Linked DNA regions of Homo sapiens. The protein of the gene in region 2 interacts with the protein of the main gene of each other region in a biochemical or structural test. Each region holds a gene or a part of one and is shown on either strand. Other genes may lie near its edges.

The links. The genes of interacting proteins can lie anywhere in the genome.
Region 1: of the proteins of POLD1 (region 2) and CCNE1, one has a biochemical effect on the other in vitro, tested with the Homo sapiens proteins (one study listed by BioGRID).

What each region holds. Positions count from the first base shown.
Region 1 is NC_000019.10:29,818,491-29,821,990, forward strand, and holds part of CCNE1 (G1/S-specific cyclin-E1), read left to right. Parts: intron 1-2,211; coding exon 2,212-2,358; intron 2,359-3,231; coding exon 3,232-3,327; intron 3,328-3,500. UniProt on the Homo sapiens protein: Essential for the control of the cell cycle at the G1/S (start) transition.
Region 2 is NC_000019.10:50,401,347-50,404,846, reverse strand, and holds part of POLD1 (DNA polymerase delta catalytic subunit), read right to left. Parts: intron 3,070-3,500; coding exon 2,923-3,069; intron 2,849-2,922; coding exon 2,723-2,848; intron 2,643-2,722; coding exon 2,474-2,642; intron 2,394-2,473; coding exon 2,312-2,393; intron 2,236-2,311; coding exon 2,106-2,235; intron 1,795-2,105; coding exon 1,628-1,794; intron 1,355-1,627; coding exon 1,250-1,354; intron 1-1,249. UniProt on the Homo sapiens protein: As the catalytic component of the trimeric (Pol-delta3 complex) and tetrameric DNA polymerase delta complexes (Pol-delta4 complex), plays a crucial role in high fidelity genome replication, including in lagging strand synthesis, and repair.

The sequences.
Region 1 (3,500 bases), about 21 Mb from region 2:
ATATATCACCTGTTTTATAGCTACTGTCATAAATTGTAAACATATATGAACAAGCTTATCTTAAACAGGTCTGACATTGCTCCTTTTTAACTTCTTGGAATCCATTCCCTTTTCCACCATTCCCATTTATTCTAATAAAATATATTGTTCAAATCCTGGCTGGGCACAGTGGCTCATGTCTGTAATCCCAGCACTTTGGAAGGCCAAGGCAGAAGGATCCCTTGAGCCCAGGAGTTAGAGACTAGCCTGGGCAACATAGCGAGACCCCATGTCTTTTTTTTTTTTTTTTGAGACGGAGTTTCGCTCTTGTTGCCCAGGCTGGCATGCAATGGTGTGATCTTGGCTCACCACAACCTCTGCCTCCCGGGTTCAAGCGATTTTCTTGCCTCAGGCTCCCGAGTAGCTGGGATTACAGGCATACGCCACCACGCCCGGCTAATTTTGTATTTTTAGTAGAGACGGGGTTTCCTCCATGTTGGTCAGGCTGGTCTTGAAGTCCCGACCTCAGGTGATCCGCCCGCCTTGGCCTCCCAAAGTGCTGGGATTACAGGCGTGAGCCACTGCGCCTGGCCCTTGAGACCCCATTTCAACAAAAAATAAAAAATTGTCAGGGTATAGTGGCTCAGGCTTGTAGTCACAACTACTGGGGAGGCTGAAGTGGGAGGATTGCTTGAGCCTGGGAGTTGGAGCTTGCAGTGAGCTGTGATAGCGCCACTGCACTCCAGCCTAGGTGACCATGAGACTCTGTCTCAATTTTTTTTTTAAGCATATTTTTAAAGATATTTGGACCATTGGAGTGGCTTCTGTGTTTTGAGACAGAGTTGCTCTGTCACCCAAGCTGGAGTGTAGTGGTGCAGTCACGGCTCACTGCAGGCTCCAATTCCTGGGCTCAAGCAGTCCTCCCACCTCAGCCTCCGCAGTCCTTGGGACTACAGGCATGAGCCACTACTCCCTGCCGATTTTTTATTTTTTGTTGAGTTGGGGTCTTGCTATGTTGCCCCGGCTGGTCTCCAACTCCTGGGATCAAGGGATCCCCATGCCTTGGCCTCCCAAAGTGCTGGGATTGCAGGTGTGAGCTACAGCACCCAACTCAAATCTTTTCTTGGTCCACACTATTTTATTTCTCTTTAACAGTTAATCAAAAGAACAAGTATAACAACATTTGATAGATAATGGTTAAACATAAAAGATGAGATTTTATTGGTTGTATATCTTACTGGGATGAACTGCGGTAGCTTATAGTTTCTTGATTAAGGGAAGCTTCCTAGACAACCTTGTAAGACTTGAATGGGTGAGAAGTGGGCTTTTCTTCTGAAGTGGAAGGACATCTCAGGCAGACCTGCTTCATGAAAACATGTAGAAGTTGAGTGTGTAACTACAGAAGTACCCCTCATCCTCGGGGGTACATCCCAAGACCCGCAGGAGATGCCTGAAGCCACAGATAGTACTGAGCTCTAGATATGCCATGTTTTTAATCCTCTACTTTCATGTTTTCACTTAAAGAAAGCACTTCACGGCTTCTCTTTGGCATTTCCAAATAGCCAGCATCACTACTCTTGCCCTGTGGGGCCATTATTCAGTCAAATAAGGGCTGCTTGCTTGAACACCAGCACTGCTGTGCTGTGACAGTCCATCTGATGACCTGTGTGCTAGTGAGTGACTAACAGGCAGGTGGCCTACTCCACGGGGATGTGCGGGCAAGGGGATGATTCACATCCTAGGCAGGTGAGGGTGGGACAGGCCAGAAGGGCCCCTCATTTAAAACCTATCAGTTGTTAGGCTGGGCACAGTGGCTCATCCCTATAATCCCAGCACTTTGGGAGGCCGAAGCAGGTGGATCACTTGAGGCCGGGAGTTCAAAACCAGCCTGGCCAACGTGGTGAAATACCATTTCTACTAAAAATACAAAAATTAGCTGGGCATGGTGGCGGGTGCTGGTAATTCCAGCTACTCGGGAGGCTGAAGCAAGAGAATCGCTTGAGCCTGGAAGTTGGAGGTTGCAGTGAACCAAGATCACAACACTACTTTCCAGACTGGGTGACAGAATAAGGCACCTCAAAAAAAAAACAAAAAAACAAAAAACTATCAATTGTTGAGTTCAGGAACTTTGCATTTTATATTTTCCTTCACCAAAGTCATTACAAGTTTTTTTTTTTTCCCCTCCCTCAAGTAAAACTTACTTGTGCTAAAACTTACTAAATATGTTTTCAGGTGTGTGAAGTCTATAAACTTCACAGGGAGACCTTTTACTTGGCACAAGATTTCTTTGACCGGTATATGGCGACACAAGAAAATGTTGTAAAAACTCTTTTACAGCTTATTGGGATTTCATCTTTATTTATTGCAGCCAAACTTGAGGTAAATAATTTTCAAATATTTGTTCTATAATGTGTGTTATTTCTCGAGCTCCACTGAGATTGGGGGAAGAGGTTGGCGCTTAGCCTATAGCACTCATCCTAAATTTTTCTGATTTGCTACCCTGTAAAGTTAAGACACATGCCAAAAAGAAAAAAAGGCTGGAAAGTGACCAGGAAGAGAAAAGTAGTGAGGGTATGGAAGACCTAGGTTCATGTAGTTACATTGAGCCAAAAAAAAAAATGAACTTTGAACTAAGATAATAATTTTGGGCCCGGGTTGGTGGCTCAAGCCTATAATCCCAGCACTTTGGGAGGCCAAGGCAGCTGGGTCACTTGAGGCCAGTAGTTTGAGACATGGTGAAATACCATTTGTACTAAAAATACAAAAAATTAGCCAGGCGTGGTGGCACGTGCCTGTAATCCCAGCTATTCGGGAGGCTGAGGCAAGAGAATTGCTGGAGCCCAGGTGGCCGAGGTTGCAGTGAGTCGAGATCCTACCACTGCACTCCAGCCTGGGCAACAGAGGGAAATTCTGTCTAAAAGAAAAAAGAAAAGATTAAAAATTTGTGTATGATTATCAAAGGGTATATGGGCCCAACTTTCAAATGTGTTAAAGGTACTGAAAAGGGGATATTTCAAGAGTACCCACAATGAGTCAAAGTTCCATCCATTTATTTAATGGTGGGTGGGAGTTGTGTTCTTTTTTTTTTTTTTTTTTTTTTTTACAACCATTGGTGTGGCTTCTGTGTTAATTCCATCAGTGCGCCCTCTCTCTTTCCATGCCAGGGTACTGAGAAGTCATTTTGGATGCATTATAAATTGAGACTGTTAGAGATTGGCTTTGGTGCTAGTGCCATCTTTTATTTCCTTTCAGGAAATCTATCCTCCAAAGTTGCACCAGTTTGCGTATGTGACAGATGGAGCTTGTTCAGGAGATGAAATTCTCACCATGGAATTAATGATTATGAAGGTGGGTTCCAGTGAATTTTCCGGCCATTTTTTAAATGCGTACGGCAGATCTTTTCCACCTGAAGTGTGAGTGCCTCTGGGAGGTGTTCTCCAGCTGGACACATTGTGGCATGGAACATGGCTGCATTTTGAACTTCTTTTCTCAATCATCGGTCTCTTTTCTCTCTGTTTTCC
Region 2 (3,500 bases):
GGAGGCGGAGGTTGTGGTGAGCCAAGATCGTGCCATTGCACTCCAGCCTGGGCAACAAGAGCGAAATTCCATCTCAAGAAACAATAACAAAAAAGCAAAAATTTGCGGGGCGTGGTGGCTCACGCCTGTAATCCCAGCTACTTGGGAGGCTGAGGCAGGAGAATCGCTTGAACCTGGGAGGTGGAGGTTGCAGTGAGCCTCGATCGTGCCATCGCACTCCAGCCTGGGCGACACAGCGAGACTCTGTCTCAAAAAAAAAAAAAAAAAAAAAAGAAAGAGAAAAGGGGTTGGGTGCAGTAGCTCACGCCTATAATCCCAACACTTTGGGAGGCCGAGGCAGACGGATCACAAGGTCAGGAGATCAAGACCATCCTCGCTAACACAGTGAAACCCCGTCTCTACTAAAAACACAAAAAATTAGCCAGGCGTGGTGGCGGGCGCCTGTAGTCCCAGCTACTTGGGAGGCTGAGGCAGGAGAATGGCATGAACCTGGGAGGCGGAGTTTGCAGTGAGCCAAGATTGCGCCACTGCACTCCAGCCTGGGCGACAGAGCGAGACTTTGTCTTGGAAAAAAAAAAAAAAGGGAGGACATGTGGAAACAGACACGCACAGAGAGAAGACGGTGTGAAGAGGCACAGGGGGATGATGGCCGTCTGCAAGCCAAGGAGAGAGGCCGTGAACCAGTCCTCCCTTGCAGCCCCCGAAGGAAGCAGGCCCGCTGACACTTTGGTCATGGACTTTCCAGCCTTCAGGACGGTGAGACAATGACTTTTTGCTGTTTTCAGCCACCTGGTCTGTGGCTCTTTGTTACAGCAACTCGGGCAGAGGAATCCACCCTTACACACATGCAGACTCAAGAAGCATCCGGAATTTGCCCCATCAGTCAACACACTCCCCCCTCCTCCTCCATTATGATTCTTTTCCTTATGCTGATATAACCTAAAGGAAGACTGGGATTCAGTGGCTGCTTCATGGCTTGTTGAACCCCTGCAAGCTTCAGGCCGACCTTGAATGCACAGCCTTCTCTTACTCCACCGTAACGCCCTCCTTGCCTCTGATAAAAGCCACAGTAACTTTTTCGACTTGGAGCAGGGCAGGACCAGGCCTAGGCTGCCCCTGCAGGCAATCGGCTGAGGCACACAGAGCAAGATGCACCAAGCCATGTGGAGAGGGAGTGGGAAGGAGGCCCAGGGCCCGGAGGCCACACCTGGGGCATCTGAGAGAAGCCTCCCACCTGCCCAGCCCTCACCTTGAGGGTCTGGGCCCGAGAGATGAGGTACGGAAGGTCGAAGTTCTGGATGTTGTAACCGGTGATCACGTCGGGGTCCATGATACGGATGAAGGTGGACCAGGCCTGGGGGTGGGAGCACATTGGGTCACCCTGGTGGTTGCCCTGCCTCGGATTCCCCTACTTCCAGAATGTTCTAGAACCCCAGCCACCCCTGAAAATCCTGCAGAACCCAGAGGGGAAGTGCTCAAGCCTAATTGCACAGGGGCCCACCCAGACCCACAGACACCCACCCAGACCCACAGACATGGGCGTCGCAGCACCCAGGAGCTGATGGCTCAGGACGCGGAGGCTGGCGGGGACCCCGGGAAATGGTGTGGGGCGTGGAGCGAGAGCTACCTGCAGCAGGTCCTCCTCCTTCTCGTAGCTCTGCACCTTGGCACCCAGGATGGGGGCACAGGGCCGCAGGGTGAGCGCCAGGCGTAGGAAGGGCTCCGGCTCCCCCCAGCGCAGGCCCAGCGAGCAGATCTGGATGACAGGGTCCCGCTCAGGCTCAGGGAAGATGCCTGCGAGGCAGGAGGATGCAGGGGCCTGACTCCTGCCCCTCACTCCCAACACAGCAGGGAGGCTGCACCTGCCATCTCCCCGGGGCTGTCCCCGCTGCCTGCCGGCCCTACGTGGCTCACCCTGGCTCCTGCTCTGCTCTCACCTCCAGGCCATCTCCACACCCTCTGTGCTCACTCCATCTGGCCACATGGGCTGGGGTGCTCCTGCCCCGGCACCTTCATGCTTGCCATTCCCTCCACCGGACCTGCCTTTCCGACCCCCGACTTGGCACATCAATGAGGCGGGCAGGAGCCCGGGCCCGGGGACAGACCTTTGCGGCCGGCGCACTCGATATCGAAGCTGAGCACGCGCAAGGGCGCAATGCGCTGCCATGGCCCTTCCGGTGGGTGACTGACCACGTCAGACCACAGCACGTCCGCCTCCAGCTGGCACTGCGTAGCCTGTGGGCATGGGTGGGTCAGCGGTGGCAGCAGGGTACCAGCTCCCCACCCAGCCCTGCCCTGGGAAGCCCTGCACCTTCTCCTTCAGCCTCAGGGCGTATTTCCCAGCTGGGAGCTCCAGCCAGTTGCAGCCGACGATGTCCGTGTCCACCATGAACCTGGAGGGGGCTGGGGGTCAGTGGACAGGGGCTGCCCGAGGGTGGGGATAGAGGCCGGAGAAGTGAGGCAGAGGCCGTACCGGATCTCAAAGTCGACGTTGGCCTCGTAGGGCGCGAAGCTGGGCGTGCCCAGGCCTGCCACACGGATGCCCTGTTCCAGGAGACGGCGGGCCGGGGCCACGAGGCGCGGCAGCGCCACGGTGATGCGCAGGAACGGGGAGGGGCCGTGCCCGTGGTACCCAAACATGCCTGTGGATGGAAGAAGCTGGGACCAGCCAATGGCCTCCCGAGGGGACCCTCCAACCCGCTGATCCTGGGGGAGCACTCACTCTCTCGGGAGCACAGTTCCACAGCCAGCACGGCCGGCCCAGTCAGCTCCCTCCCCCCGCGACTGTCCCGGCTGATGGCCAAGTTCAGCTCCCGTTGCAGGTCACCCATGTGCTCGGGCCCGAAACCTGGTGTGGGAGGGATGATCAGAGGTGCAGGGGGCTCCAGTGGCTCAGGGAGGGGCTGGGTAGGGGCCACTCACCAGGGGGCGCTGGGGTGTAGAAGTAGGGAGCGAAGCCGTGGATGTGGCAGCAGACAGAGAACCCCTCATCGGTGACCCCGAAGGCGCGGAGCACAGGCACGGAGCCGCGGGATGGTGGGGGCCCCCCAGGCACAGGCTGCGCTGGGCCTGTGGGGTCACAGGGTAAGACAGCGGCCATGCCTCTCAGGGTCCTCCAAGGTGTGTCTCCACAGCCTCGAAATACCTTGGGGCCTGCAGCCTGGGGCACTCCTGCCCCTGTACCGTTCCCTGTGTCCATTTCAGCCTCCCCCCTGGTTCCCATCTCCAGCCTCATCCCCCAGGATCCATTCTCCACAGCACAACTACAGGGAGGCCCTTCTTTTTTATTACAAGATAAAAACAACTGGCCGTGCACAGTGACTCACACCTGTGATTCCAGTGCTTTGTGAGGCCAAGGCGGGAGGATCGCTAGAGCCCAGGACTTTGAGACCAGCCTGGGCAAAAGAGCGAGACCCAGTCTCAAAAAAAAGAAAAAAAAAAAAAAAAAAAAAAAATATATATATATATATATATATATACACATATACACAAATACACAC